Linked DNA regions of Homo sapiens: region 2 is linked to region 1. The links come from fine-mapping of genetic effects on gene expression. A gene starts in region 1. The other region holds a variant in brackets. All regions are shown on one strand. Distances are from middle to middle. Region 1 holds the start of RAPGEF2 (Rap guanine nucleotide exchange factor 2). Region 2 overlaps SPMIP2 (sperm microtubule inner protein 2).

Region 1 (2,902 bases):
ACACACACACACACACTCTCTCTCTCTCTCTCTCTGTCTCTCCCTCTCTCTCTCTCTCTCTCTCTCTCTCTCTCTCTCTCGGCTGGGCAACATAGTGGGAAAGGTCAGTCATGGGGAGGGAAGAGTTAAGGAGCAGAATGTCAAGGAGAGGGAAAAATAAAACCAGGATAGGCGGAGTAAAAGACTCGGAGGTGGGATGCCTTTGGAAGTTGGGGGTCCTGATGCAAGAAGTGGGGTGCTCGGGGCGAACTGTGTCAGGAAGGAGGTGGGGGGACAGGGGAAGACGCAGCCTGCGAGGCAGAAATCCGGCCAAGGGCAGGCGGCCGCCGCGTTCTCACCTGGGGGGTCCTTTCGGGGGGATTCTTCATCACCGCCTGGCGGAAGCTGTTATCTACGTAGGACGCCATCTCCCCTCTGGGAGCGGGCCGGGGCCGCTCCGCACCCTGGCCGGCCTCCTCCCGGCCCAGCGCCGCTGCTGCCTCCGCCCTGCGCGCTGCGCCCGCCCGCCCGCCCGCGACTAATCAGCCAAACCGCGGCGGCGGCGGCGCGGGGCCCGCGGGGGGGCGGCTCGGCTGGGCCCGGCGGCCGAGAGCGCGGTACAGGCGCGAGGGGCTGGACGCAGCCGGGAGGGTCGCGGCGCCCCTAGGCTGCCGTGCGATGCGGCCCGCAGGCGGAACTCCCCTTCCTCCTCCTCCTCCTCTTCCTCGCCGCTCCGCCGGCTTCCTCCGGCCCTGGCTCGACACGCCTCCCCGGCTCCACTCGGGGGACAGTGGCGGCTCCTCCTGGCCCCAGCGGGCCCGAGTTATTTTTAGGGAGGTACGAGTGGCAGTGGGGAGGGCTGTGGGCAGGCGGAGCCTCCTCCCCCACGGCGCTGAGGGTCGCCCCCTCCTCTCAGGGGCTTGCGCAGCCGCCGCCCAGGGGTCTCCGAGAATCACTTGGATCTTCCGCGTCCCCAGTCCTCGGGCGCCTCGGCCGCCGGTCGGGAGGACGGACCAGGTGGGTCTGGCTCAGGTCCGGGCGCTGCGAAGCCCGATCGCCTCGGCCGCCGCTCCTGGTCTCTGTCTACTGGGCTCGGCCGTCCCTCCCGACTGCTGCTGCATCCCCTCGGGCCGCCCAGCCGCCGCCGCCGCCGCCTCTGCTGCTCGGGCCGCCGCTGTGGGCTCCGCCGCCGCCGCCTCCCCCCATCAGCGCGCCCGGAGCGGAGCTGCCCCGGCGCCGGCGCCGCCGCGGCCAGAGCACCCGGCCCGGGCTGCAGCCCTCCGGCCCAGTCGCTCTCGGCAACTTTGTTCCTCGTCTGCGCGGGGCGGAGGAGGGGGAAGAGGGGGCCGCGGACAGCCCGGGTTCGGACTCCCGGCGCGGGCGTCCGAGGGCCGAAAGCCGAGAGCCGCGCACAGCCCCCTCGGAGAGAGTGTTTGGGAAGCGGCGATTCCCCTCCTCTTCCTCCGCCTCTTCCTCCTCCTGCGCCTTCTCCGGCCGCCGGAGCCGCTCCTCAGGGAGGAAGCGGCCTCTGGGGCTTGTTGCTTTGTGCTGCAACCATGGTGAGGAATGAGTGACAGCGTGGGGGCGAGTCGGCGGCCGCCGCATCATCGGGGGGCGGGGCAGCCCCGTCGCGCCGGGTCCCGCCTCCCCGCTCCCCGCCCGCCAGCGGCCGCGCCCTCGCGTCTGAGCGGCACCTTCGGCGGCGCCCAGGTGAGCAGCGCTCTGGCCGCAAGTGGGTCGCGGAGCCCTCGGCCGGGCTGTCGGGTCCCGCGCGCGGCCTGGACCCGAAGAGGGGGCGCAAGTCCTGGTGCCCCGGAGAGAAGCGCAGGGCTTTCCTCACGCAGTGTCCCCCACTGTCTCACGCCGCGCCCCCTCCCCACACCCGACGCGCCCTACTAGGAGACCCAGCCGCGTCGGGTCGCTGCTCCCCGCCCGCTCCTGGCGCCACGCCGCCGCCCAGGGGCTGAAAGCTAACCTTGGGCAAAAGACCGGCCCACCAGCCCGGGCTGTACTGGGCATTCTTTTTGAGCCCAAGAGTTGCGTCCGAGTTGCTTCTGTGGCGATAAATCCTCTTAGGATTTATTTTGCTTATTTGTAATTTGCTGCACCCTCCCCTGCTTTCCAAGCCCACTCTGGCACCTCAGACAGTAAAATGACCACGAAATTAGGCAGAGAGGTTTCAACACCAGACCCACTACCACCCCTAGACCAACAAACACTCCAGATTTAAAGTTGATCACTCCTTAGCGACAGACCAGGATGGCAAGTTCTGTGACATAATCAGAAACATTTATTGGTAGGTCTGGCTTTGCCTTGGACAGAACAAGCCTCCTCCTCTAGATGCTCAAATTTCCAAACCGGACCCACATGGTGCAGAAACAATACCTCGTCCTTCAAGATGTCACCGCTCCTGCTGATTCCCTCAGCTCCCCCCCACTCCTTGCCCCGGCCACGTAGAGGTGTGTTAAGGTCAGCCCAAGCATCGGGGACCACTCTGCTGTTCTGGTCCCAGGGATTTATTTTTGTTTGCCCCCACCCCCCACAAGTTCTTATTTTGATATCTATAGACACAATGAGTTTTATGTATGAGCTACTGCGTTGAACTTTTCAAACATGATTTTCAACATCTAGTTTAAACACTTGGAATAGATTGTCAGCTAACATTTTGGGGTTCCTTAAGTCACCTGTGTGCACTAAACAGCTTGTGTGACTTCCTAGCAAAGGGACTGTCCCTGCCCAACCTTGTGAAAGGGAATCTGAGTTACAAATTGTATCTGTAGACCTTTTTATATTACTCTTGCTGGAACTGCTTCTCTATATTTCTCTTTCACCTCTTAGTTGAGCGCCAACATCAAATTCTCTATGACATAGGCCACTACCTTGAAAGCAAAGGAACATGAATAAGTGCCAATACAGCTCTGAA
Region 2 (2,902 bases), 170 kb after region 1:
AGCCCAGGAGTTTGAGACCAGCCTGGCAACATGATGAAATCCTGTCTCTATAAGAAATACAAAAAATAGGCAAAGTCGTGTGCACCTGTAGTCCCAGCAACTTGGGAGGCTGTGGTGGGGAGGATTGCTTGAGCTTGGAAAGTCGAGGCTTCACTGAGCTGTGATTGTACCACTGCACTCCAGCCTAGGTGATAGAGCAAGACTCTTTCAACTCAGAGCGAGTGAGAGAGAGAGAGAGAGAGAGAGAGACTGAGATCCTCAATAAGATTAACATGAATTATCAGCAGAAACCATGGAAGCCAGAAGGCAGGAGGATGACATATTCAAAGTGCTAAAAGACAGACTGTCAGCCAAGAATTCTATGTATGCAGAAATTTGTAGTATGCAGGAATACTATGCTTTTATGCCTCGAAAATGAAAGAGAAAGTAAGATATTCTCAGATATACAAAAATTGAGAATTTTTTTCACTAGCAGACCTGCCCTGCAAGAAATGCTAAAGAGAATATTTCAGGCTAAAATGAAAGGACCATACACATGAACTCAAATCCACATGAAGAAATAAAGGGCACTGGTAACTACATAGGTATATTATAAAGTCAGTATTAATATATTTTTGATTTGTAACTTCTCTTTTCTCCTATGTGATTTAAAAGATAACTGCATAAAACAATAATTATAGAATTATATTGATAGGCATATAATTTAGAAAAATGTAATTTGTCTAAAACTAATAGCACAAAGGAGGAAGGAGGAAATGGAGTTATACTGAAGCAAAGTTTTTCATATGATGGAAATTAAGTTGGTATTAATCCTAACTAGATTATTTTGAAATAAGATATTAATGATAATCCCCAGACCAGCCACTAAGAAAGTAACTCAAAAATGCATACTAAAAGATACAACAAGGGAATTAAAATAGTGTACTATTTAAATGAAATGCAAGGCTAAAATGATAGAAAATATCTACCACAAAAGCAAGCATGAAGAAATAGAGAAACAAAAAATATTTAAGACTTATAGAAAACAAATAGCAAAATAACAGACATAAATCCTACCAAATCAATGACTATGACCACATTAAATGTAAATGGACTAAACAATCCAATCAAATGCCAGAGATTGTGCTGGGTATGTTGGCTTATGCCTGTAATCCCAACACTTTGAGAGGCCAAGGCAGGAAGACTGCTTGGGGCCAGGAGCGTGGGACCAGCCTGGGCAATAGAGCAAGGCCCCATCTCTACAAAAAGAATTTTTTTAAGTAACCACGCATGATGACATGCACCTGTAGTCCTAACTACTCAGGAGGTTGAGGTGGGAGGATCACTTGAGCCCAGGAAGTTGAGGCTGCAGTTAGCCAAGATCATACTGTGTCCGGAATTGGTGGGTTCTTTGTCTCACTGACTTCAAGAATGAAGCCACGGACGCTCGGACGCTCGCAGTGAGTGTTACAGCTCTTAAGGTGGCGCGTCTGGAGTTTGTTCCTTCTGATGTTCTGATGCGTTCAGAGTTTCTTCCTTCCGGTGGGATCGTGGTCTCGCTGGCTCAGGAGTGAAGCTGCAGCCCTTCGCGGTGACTGTTAACAGCTCTTAAAGCAGCACGTCTGGTGTTGTTTGTTCCTCCCGGTGGGCTCGTGGTCTCGCTGGCTTCAGGAGTGAAGCC[G/A]CAGACCTTAGCGGTGTTACAGCTCATAAAAGCAGCGTGGACCCAAAGACTGAGCAGTAGCAAGATTTATTGCAAAAAGCAAAAGAACAAAGCTTCCACTGTGTGGAAGGGTACCCGAGCGGGTTGCCACTGCTGGCTCTGGCAGCCTGCATTTATTTTCTTATCTGGCCCCACCCACATCCTGCTGCTTGGTAGAGCTGAGTGGTCTGTTTTGACAGGGCGCTGATTGGTGCGTTTACAATCCCTGAGCTAGACATAAAGGTTCTCCACCTCCCCACCAGATTAGCTAGATACAGAGTGTGGACACAAAGGTTCTCCAAGGCCCCACCAGAGTAGCTAGATACAGAGTGTCGATTGGTGCATTCACAAACCCTGAGCTAGACACAGGGTGCTGATTGGTGTATTTACAAACCTTGAGCTAGATACAGAGTGCCGATTGGTGTATTTACAATCCCTGAGCTAGACATAAAGGTTCTCCAAGGCCCCACCAGAGTAGCTAGATACAGAGTGTCGACTGGTGCATTCACAAACCCTGAGCTAGACACAGTGTGCTGACTGGTGTATTTACAATCCCTGAGCTAGACATAAAGGTTCTCCACATCCCCACCAGACTCAGGAGCCCAGCTGGCTTCATCCAGTGGATCCCACACCTGTGCTGCAGGTGGAGCTGCCTGCCAGTCCCGTGCCTTGCGCCTGCACTCCTCAGCCCTTGGGTGGTCGATGGGACTGGGCACCGTGGAGCAGGGGGCGGCGCTCATTGAGGAGGTTCAGGCTGCACAGGAGCCCACAGAGGGGGTGGGAAGCTCAGGCATGGCGGGCTGCAGGTCCTGAGCCCTGCCCCACAGGAAGGCAGCTAAGGCCCGCCGAGAAATCGAGTGCAGCGCAGGTGGGCTGGGACTGCTGGGGGACCCAGTACACCCGCCGTAGCTGCTGGCCCGGGTGCTAAGCCCCTCATTGCCCGGGGCCAGCAGGGCCCGCCGGCTGCTCCGAGTGCGGGGCCCACCAAGCCCAGTCTAACCGGGAACTCCAGCTGGCCTGCAAGCACCTTGCGCAGCCCGGGTTCCCACTGGCGCCTCTCCCTCCACACCTCCCTGCAAGCTGAGGGAGCCGGCTCTGGCCTTGGCCAGCCCAGAAAGGGGCTCCCACAGTGCAGCGGTGGGCTGAAGGGCTCCTCAAGTGCCGCCAAAGTGGGAGCCCAGGCAGAGGAGGCGCCGAGAGCGAGGGAGGGCTGTGAGGACTGCC

The links.
Region 2: its variant is fine-mapped to the expression of RAPGEF2 in whole blood (TOPMed, PIP above 0.99).

Annotation. Positions count from the first base shown.
Region 1 is chr4:159,101,668-159,104,569 of GRCh38, reverse strand. It overlaps RAPGEF2 (Rap guanine nucleotide exchange factor 2), which reads right to left and starts at 1,491. Exons shown (of 30, transcript NM_001394067.2): 1 at 339-1,491. The coding sequence starts at 407. RefSeq lists silencers at 352-771, 739-1,033, 782-1,071, 1,112-1,331, 1,462-2,001 and an enhancer at 1,650-2,341.
Region 2 is chr4:158,927,539-158,930,440 of GRCh38, reverse strand. All of the region lies in intron 3 of SPMIP2 (sperm microtubule inner protein 2), which reads left to right. Among named protein-coding and RNA genes, the nearest start is that of SPMIP2, 110 kb to the left of the region's middle. The variant G/A (reference allele first, on the strand shown) is at 1,661.